Homo sapiens: one gene and its partner. The protein of the gene in region 1 purifies or fractionates together with the protein of each later gene. This does not show direct contact. Each region holds a gene or a part of one and is shown in the gene's direction. Other genes may lie near its edges. The genes, in order: PDC and DCC.

The links.
Region 2: the proteins of PDC (region 1) and DCC purify together in Homo sapiens (affinity purification with mass spectrometry; one large-scale study listed by BioGRID and IntAct). This does not show direct contact.

What each region holds. Positions count from the first base shown.
Region 1 is NC_000001.11:186,447,486-186,451,322, reverse strand, and holds part of PDC (phosducin), read left to right. Parts: intron 1-48; exon of another isoform or gene 49-144; intron 145-1,839; 5' UTR 1,840-1,863; coding exon 1,864-1,924; intron 1,925-2,598; exon of another isoform or gene 2,599-2,695; intron 2,696-3,837. UniProt on the Homo sapiens protein: May participate in the regulation of visual phototransduction or in the integration of photoreceptor metabolism. Inhibits the transcriptional activation activity of the cone-rod homeobox CRX.
Region 2 is NC_000018.10:52,346,573-52,350,409, forward strand, and holds part of DCC (netrin receptor DCC), read left to right. Parts: intron 1-3,837. UniProt on the Homo sapiens protein: Receptor for netrin required for axon guidance. Mediates axon attraction of neuronal growth cones in the developing nervous system upon ligand binding. Its association with UNC5 proteins may trigger signaling for axon repulsion.

The sequences.
Region 1 (3,837 bases):
TTACTAAATCCATTCAAATGTAATATTCTTTATTACATTTATACTTACCTAAACATTGTGAAATTGATTGGCTTTCCCTTGACAGTCTTTTCTTGTTCAAGTGGAAAAACTCAAATTGGCAAAGACATTTGACCTCCAGTGATTCTGGATAGGGATTGCAAAAAGAGAAACAAAATTACAGGACCAGTCCAAGTGTTGAGACCAAAGGTAAAGGCAAAAGAGAAATCAAGAAAGAGTTCTGTGTTACCACCCTGCGCCTTGGGAAAGCACCACACAGACCAAATGCAGGATTGAAGTGTAAATCAATAGAAAACTAAGATGAGTTTCAAAGTATAAACTGTGCGATATAGTGCCTAAAACTGACTTCGAAAGAAGGAGGCAAAGCAAAAAAAGTGAAAGAATAAAGTATAAAAATAAGATAGTTTATCTACGATTAGTATATCCTCCCTGACTTGAAAACTTCAGGAAAATCACAACTATATGGACCCCTGAGGGAATATGTTAGTATGTATAATAATTGAGTTTTCTGGATAGTCCAAAGCTAAAAAAGGAAATAGATTTGATATGAGTGTGAACCAGATAGAATGAAAGAATAGATTCTACATGCGGGCACCAAGGAGTTTCGTATGAATAAAAATCCAAGTGCTTTTAGTGATTTTCTATTTTAGCCTGTCAAAAATACTATAAACCGGCAGGGTGTGGTGGCTGAATCCTATAATCCCAGCATTTTGAGAGGCCAAGATGGGAGGATCACTTGAGGCCAGAAGTTCAACACTAGCCTGGGCAACATACCAAAAAATAAAAAAAAACATTAGCAGGGCGTGGTGGCGCAAACACACACCTGTAGTCCCCGCCGCTCAGGAGACTGACGTGGTAAGGTCACTTGAGCCCAGAAGTTTGAGGCTGCAGTGAGCTAAATAAAACAGCACCATCGCACTTAATGAAGCCTGGGAGACAGAGTTAGACCCTCTCTCAAAAAACTTAAAAAAAAAAATACTATAGGCTTACCTACTGGCTATTTCCATTTGCTTGGTGGCTACTGTTGTCATGAAAACTTGTCCCATGGTATGGAGAGATGCTATTGAATAGTGTTCCTTAGACCATCATTTTTTAATGCCAATTCAAAGATTTGATTTGCCAAATCATACTGAGAAAAATGACTCTATTATAGAATGTTAATTTCCATAATAGTGTAATGATTAAGAGTTGGCTCCAAAGTCAGAAAATGTAGGTTCAAATCTTTGCTCCACCACTTATTGTATGATCTTGGGCAAGTAACTTAAACTCTCTGCCCTTCAGCTTCCTCGGTTACAACATGTCATTAACAATTGTTCCTACCACATATAGCTATGTGAGAATTAAATGAGTTTTGACACATAAAATAATTTAAACAATGCCTGACACATAGTGTTCATAGCAAGTATATAATTATTAATTTAATTTTTATTATATGAAATAAGTAACATATATTACGTCATATATTCAAATTTCACATAATATTAGGAAATTAGGAAAATCAGTAATAAATAATGTTCACTAACCACATAGACTTAACTGGAAGGCTTGAGTTAAGAAAAGACAAATGATGAATTATATAAAATCCTTAAGTCCAGACATCTTTAATAACACATGTTAAATTAATGTCCTTTTACATTGCGGACAGAAACATTCTAAATACTTTACCACTTACTTTACCACTGAGTGATTATCCTTAGCCTACTTATGGAATCTGGCAGCAGGAGACTATAAATATGCATGTACCTATATATTTATCTCTATATATATGTATGTACATCCTGGAATTCTTGTGTCATTATTATTTCTTTGTTCCTCCTATAGATTATATCAAATCCAGTCCCTAAAATGGAAGAAGCCAAAAGCCAAAGTTTGGAGGAAGACTTTGAAGGACAGGCCACACATACAGGCAAGCAAAGCTAGAAGAAAAAATAATTATTAAATTAAAATTAAATATGGCAATATCTAATGTTCTTATTGACACTATTCAGTATGTACTTTAAGTAATATCTTTATATAAATTGTTATGCTAATCTAAAAAATATTTGAGCGGGCAAATTAATTTTTGAAATCAAATAATTCCTAACAGTTTTATTTAGATGTCAAAGAGTAAAAAAACAAAAACACCAATTACTGGTAATTTCTTGCTGCCCAGCTATCACAAGACCTCTTATCTACACTATAATTAAGCCACTTTCCTCTCTCCTGATTGTACCCCACCCTCAGTATGAACTTTCATTGTAAACAAGATTAGACCAAAAGGTTAATAAATGGCCTTTAATTTCATTTTTTTCATCTAATAAAGGGAATGATAAGATATTCCCTTTATTTTTTTGAATAAATAAATTTCAGTATTCCTCCAGAAAACTTAACACTTCATTTCATCCAGAGTCTGTTTTCTTAATCTGTTAAATTATGTTTGGCTATCTATATGCCACTCCTAAGAGCTTAAAACTTAAATTTAAAAATTCACATTTAACTCTACTAAATCTTATTTGAATGGTAATTTCCTCTCTCTTTTAATTTGGATTGAGCCATTAAATTTAGCCAGAAGTTTGAAAGAATTCACAAGAGTACCAGCCAAAATGTGTGGAGATTTATTTTATAATAGCAATGTGAGGAATACCTTCCTAATTATGACAAAAACAAAAACAACAACAAAAAGACCATTGAAGAAAAGGTTGGTAAATTCATTTATAAAAAGGAAGGAAGGATGGATGGATGAAGGGATGGAGGGAAAGTAGGAGACAGGGAAAAAAAGGAAGGAAATATCTGCTGTCTGGTAAAGGTCACCAGGAACAAAAGTCAAAAAGCATTTAACAAATTGGGGAAAAACATTTGCAACTCAGTTGACAGTGTCAGTTTCCTAATATATATTAAGAGCTTCTACAAATCGATAAGAAAAGAAACTAATTACCAAATAGAACAATGAGCAAAAGATAGGACAGACTATTCATGGGGAAAAAAAGAAACAGAAAAAAGTAACACAGAAAACTATAGTGAAAGCAAGTAAGTTTAATAACACATTTTTGGCACCCTCATACATTGCTGATAGCAGTGTAAATTGGTACAATCTCTGTACAGGCAACCTAGCAATATCAAAATTAGTAATGTATATGCCCTTTGACCAGGGAATTTTACTTATATAACCATAACTATACCTGCACAGAGTGTTAAAAATGTATGCACAAGATTCTTCACTCAGCATCATATGTCATAGAAAAAACTGGAAACAACAATGTAGATCACGATTAAACAGTTTAAGTCAATTATGTATATCTACACAATGGAACACCATGCCTCAATTTTCTAAATAAGGAAGAACCTTTTCATGTGTGTATACTGAAAAAATCTCCAAGATATAGTATGAAACAGAAAAAACAAGGTAAGGAAAAATGCAGATAATACACCACCATCTGTAGAAAACACGAACAAAATGGATTCTCTTTTTTAAACAAACATACACACATGTATATTTTGCATATGCATAAAACATATCTAAAATATTGATATGAACACTGTATGTGAAAACAAAAAGCTTTGATTGCCTGCATATAATATAAACACATTCATAACAAATTTATATTAAATATATATCATATATAAAACAAAAATTATTAGGCAATATAGAGGAGAAAGAAGGAATACATCCACATATAGAATATGATATAGAATATGGACATTAAAGGTGTAGATATAGCTAAGCTTTAGTGAAGGATAGTCAGTTTAATATTCCTTGTTTTAAAGAATTTAAGACTTTCTTAAATGAATAACGTTGTTAGTCATCAGGTCAACTGAATATCAGAATTCCAGTTGAATCAT
Region 2 (3,837 bases), on another chromosome or scaffold:
AATAATGCATAAGATTGAATATGCCTTCTTTTTCAATATTGATGGGAATTTGCCAATGGTAATACCAGTGCATATTGCTCTTTTATTAATAGTTCCAAACAACCATATTATTCACAGCTTTCATTTCTTGGGGGGAAAAGTTCAAGTAGGAAACACACAAATCATTCCATATTTATTGATCATATTTTTAAGGCTATTCTTATGGCATGACTTCTGTAGGAATGTTTCTCTTTTCTAGTAAATTCCACGAGCCCAGTGTCTATGATCTACTTCTACTTCGTGATATACTTTAGCTTAATTTCACTAATCCAAATTTTTTGACTTTTAGCTTGCTCAGTCATTTCACCATGGCCCTCCAGGGAGGAAGACCCTTTAAAACCATTTGTGGTTATGATGATGAAACTTAACAGGAGTATTTATTGCAATTTGGAGATTTCTTCCTGGTTCATCCTTTAAATATTGGTTCTTGCCTGAAGGCTACTCCTAAGAGTATCTAGGACAAACATGTTCCACTGAATTAACTGAATCTTTAGGATGTTATCTGATGAAAATACCAACTGGTTAGTGAATTGTGTTCTGATAAGAGGACTTGTCAATACAACATTATTCTGGGCCATCTACAATGTTCTTAAATCTGTGTTTACATTTTGACAAGAGAAAAAAGAAGTTAAGCAGTTAATATAAATGTTTTTAACTCAAATCACATTTTTAGATTTTACTTATTTTTCTATAGTCTTTTAGAAATATTTCTCCACTCACTTAGCTGCCTCTTTAAAAGTATGTAGAACATAATTTAACCTGTTCTTAATAGATACAATACATCACTATGACTTCATTATAGTATTATGTGATTTTATAGGGATAATTTTTGAAGGCATTGCATCATACAGAACTGTTTATTTTTCCCATCAATTGACCATGGACTGTTACTATTGTTGAGTTTTATCTCTGGCTATAAAATATATTTTGTCTACATCTTGTGTTCAGCTGAAACTTCTCCCTGTATAAAACTTCCTCAAAGCAGTTCTCTCTTTTAGTTTTGATGTTAAGACATAGGGGACTAAGTTTTGTTGGGGTTGTGTTTAAAGTAGGAGAGGAGATTAGAAAACAGCACCTGAATCCCTTATTAGAGGAATATCTAATTAGTTTTAACTAATGATTCTGTAGCATCTGATATTAATTTGGATGTCACTTGTACTTTGTACAACGTATTTTTCCTTATTAAATGAGAATGTGGACTAGATCAACTCTAGTTATTAGTTTCAACACTATATAATTTATTTAAATTATGAACTGTACTATACATATAGTGTTTGGTATAATTAATAATACAATTCATGATCATGATAACAATAATAATAATGTAATAATAACAAATACCCATGTACCCACTAGCAGTTTTCTGATTTTTGTATTAACCCCTTGCCTTTTGTACAGTTTTTCCACATATGTATACATCTTTAACATGTTACTTTACTTGGCTGTTCTTAACAGTAATAAAATAAATATAATGTGTATATTCTCTGACTTGCAATTTTGCTGAACGTTAAGTATCTGAGTTTCATCTATGTGGATTCATATTGCTGTATTTCAGTCACTTTCTCTGGTGTATAATACTTCATGATATTAATTAACCATAGTTTATCTAATCTATTGTTGATGGATTTTGAAATTCAGTTTTTTGCTATTGCTAGTAAAGTTGGCATAAACATTCTGGTGCATGTCCACCAGCACAAATTTGCCACCATGTTTAGGGTGCATACCTAGGAGTGGAATTGCTGAGTCATAGAAGGGTATCTTTTCATCCGGGAGGCAAAGACATGTTGCAGTTACTGAAACCCCCACCAGGGGCAGATGAAAGGCCTCTTTGCTTCATGCCTCTGCCAACACTTGGTATTTTCATATGCTTAATTTGCCCGCATCTGGTAACTTCTCATTGTGGGTTTAATTCGCATTTTCCTGATTGCTTATAAGTCTGAACATTTTTTCCATTAATTTGTTAGCTATTTGTGATGTCAGCAAGACAATTCTATGATTCTGTTTCTTCAACTGAGCAACATTTGCTTTTAGACCTTAATATTATTGGTAGTTATTCTGTTTCTTCTACTAAGCAACCCTTTGCTTTTAGGCATAGATGTTATCAGTAGTCTAATGTTCAGGAAGTTGTCGCCTAATACTTTACCATGTTGACTCTGGCCTAGGCTTTATTTAAGCACCTTCCCAAAATGTACACTGATTTTGAGTTGGAAAAGACATTCTTAGTCACTGTAACATTGTTGATTACCCTGAGCAAGTCCTGCCATGTTAGTATCCTGCCTTATCCTGTTTATTGTGTCTTTATAGAGAATCATTTACAGGGAAGCAGGATGCTGGGATGCCAGGCTTAATTTGAGGCTCCTTATGAATCCCCTGAATATAATGGAACTAAAGGATAACAGAAACACAGAGTAGTAATGGTAGACACCAAATCTGAGTTAAAAATCTTAATATGATCATTTGAATTTGGGTATATTTCCAACATGGTAAAATACATAGGCCCAATATCATTGTTACATTTATGGCATATATAACTGTGGGTTTCAAACAAACGTATGTGCTTTGTGCACCATCCCCCCCAATTTTTGTTTGGGTTTATAATTTTTTCACCTGCTCCCATGGGACAGGCTAATGAAGACCCCTGAATGAAATAAAGCCTCAGATGTACTTGCAGAGGCCTCTGTAGTGTGTTGCCTTCTGTGCAGACTCATTAGAGATGTGAGCCAAGGCTGAGACATCTAAGCAAACCCTCTGCACCCAGAGTCCTCAATCCATTGTTCCTGCATCTTTTTTCAGTCTCATGGGATCCCAGAAGAATACAAATTAGAGAGAAGAATCTGCAAAGCTTTTCCTTTCATGTTTAATGTCTGGGCAGAGCTGTTCCCTGCAGGACAATTTCTGGTTATTTTCTCTCTCTGGTTTGAGGCATCTCCAGGGATGGTTTGGTGACTGTTTCCCTTGGGGAAGTTTTCAGCAGCATATCAGTTTTACTGTTAAAAGTTTATTTTACAATTCATCTGAGATAGTCCTGTTCTAAATGTTCTTTCCATTACCCTTGTCATCTGGCTCTTGATTCCTGCATACCCTTTTCAGTGACACTGCCTCTTCTGGGCTGAAATGTGTTCAATAATTCGAGCTATAAATCACTCTCGCCTCCCCATTTGGTCTTTACTTAACCAGATTATAAATATTTAATTCATTTGATTTTTCCTCATACCACTCCAGAAGCTTAATCATGTTTAGTCTTCTTACTTTAACTCCCTCTAGTTTGTTTATATCTTTCTTGTAATCAAGGGGCCTAACTCTGATGTGCTCTTCTAAGTAAGCTCTCCAGAGTCATATTATAAAATACAAATTCAGCATCATCTTTAGCTTATTGTACAGCCATAGACAAACATATGGTCTCTCAAAACTTGTGTTATCAGTTTTCAGGAAGGACTATCAATGCCTAATAAAATCATTGAGATATTATAAGGACCAAATAAGACCAAGTATTTCATTGAAGATAGTACAATAGTTACTGAGCCTTTACCAACGATTACAAATAGATGAATAAAAGATTTAGATGAGTTTCTGCCCTGCAGGGGCTTTTCCTCCAGTGAAGGTGACAGGCACACACAGAGGTAGGTAGGATACAAGGTAGAACAAAGTACTCACCGAAAAGGGACACAAACAGTTCTGTTCTTCATGTGGTTTTTGTCATTGGTTCTGTTTATGTGATGGATTACATTTATTGATTTGCGTATGTTGAACCAGCCTTTGCAGGGACATGGATGAAGTTGGAAACCATCATTCTCAGCA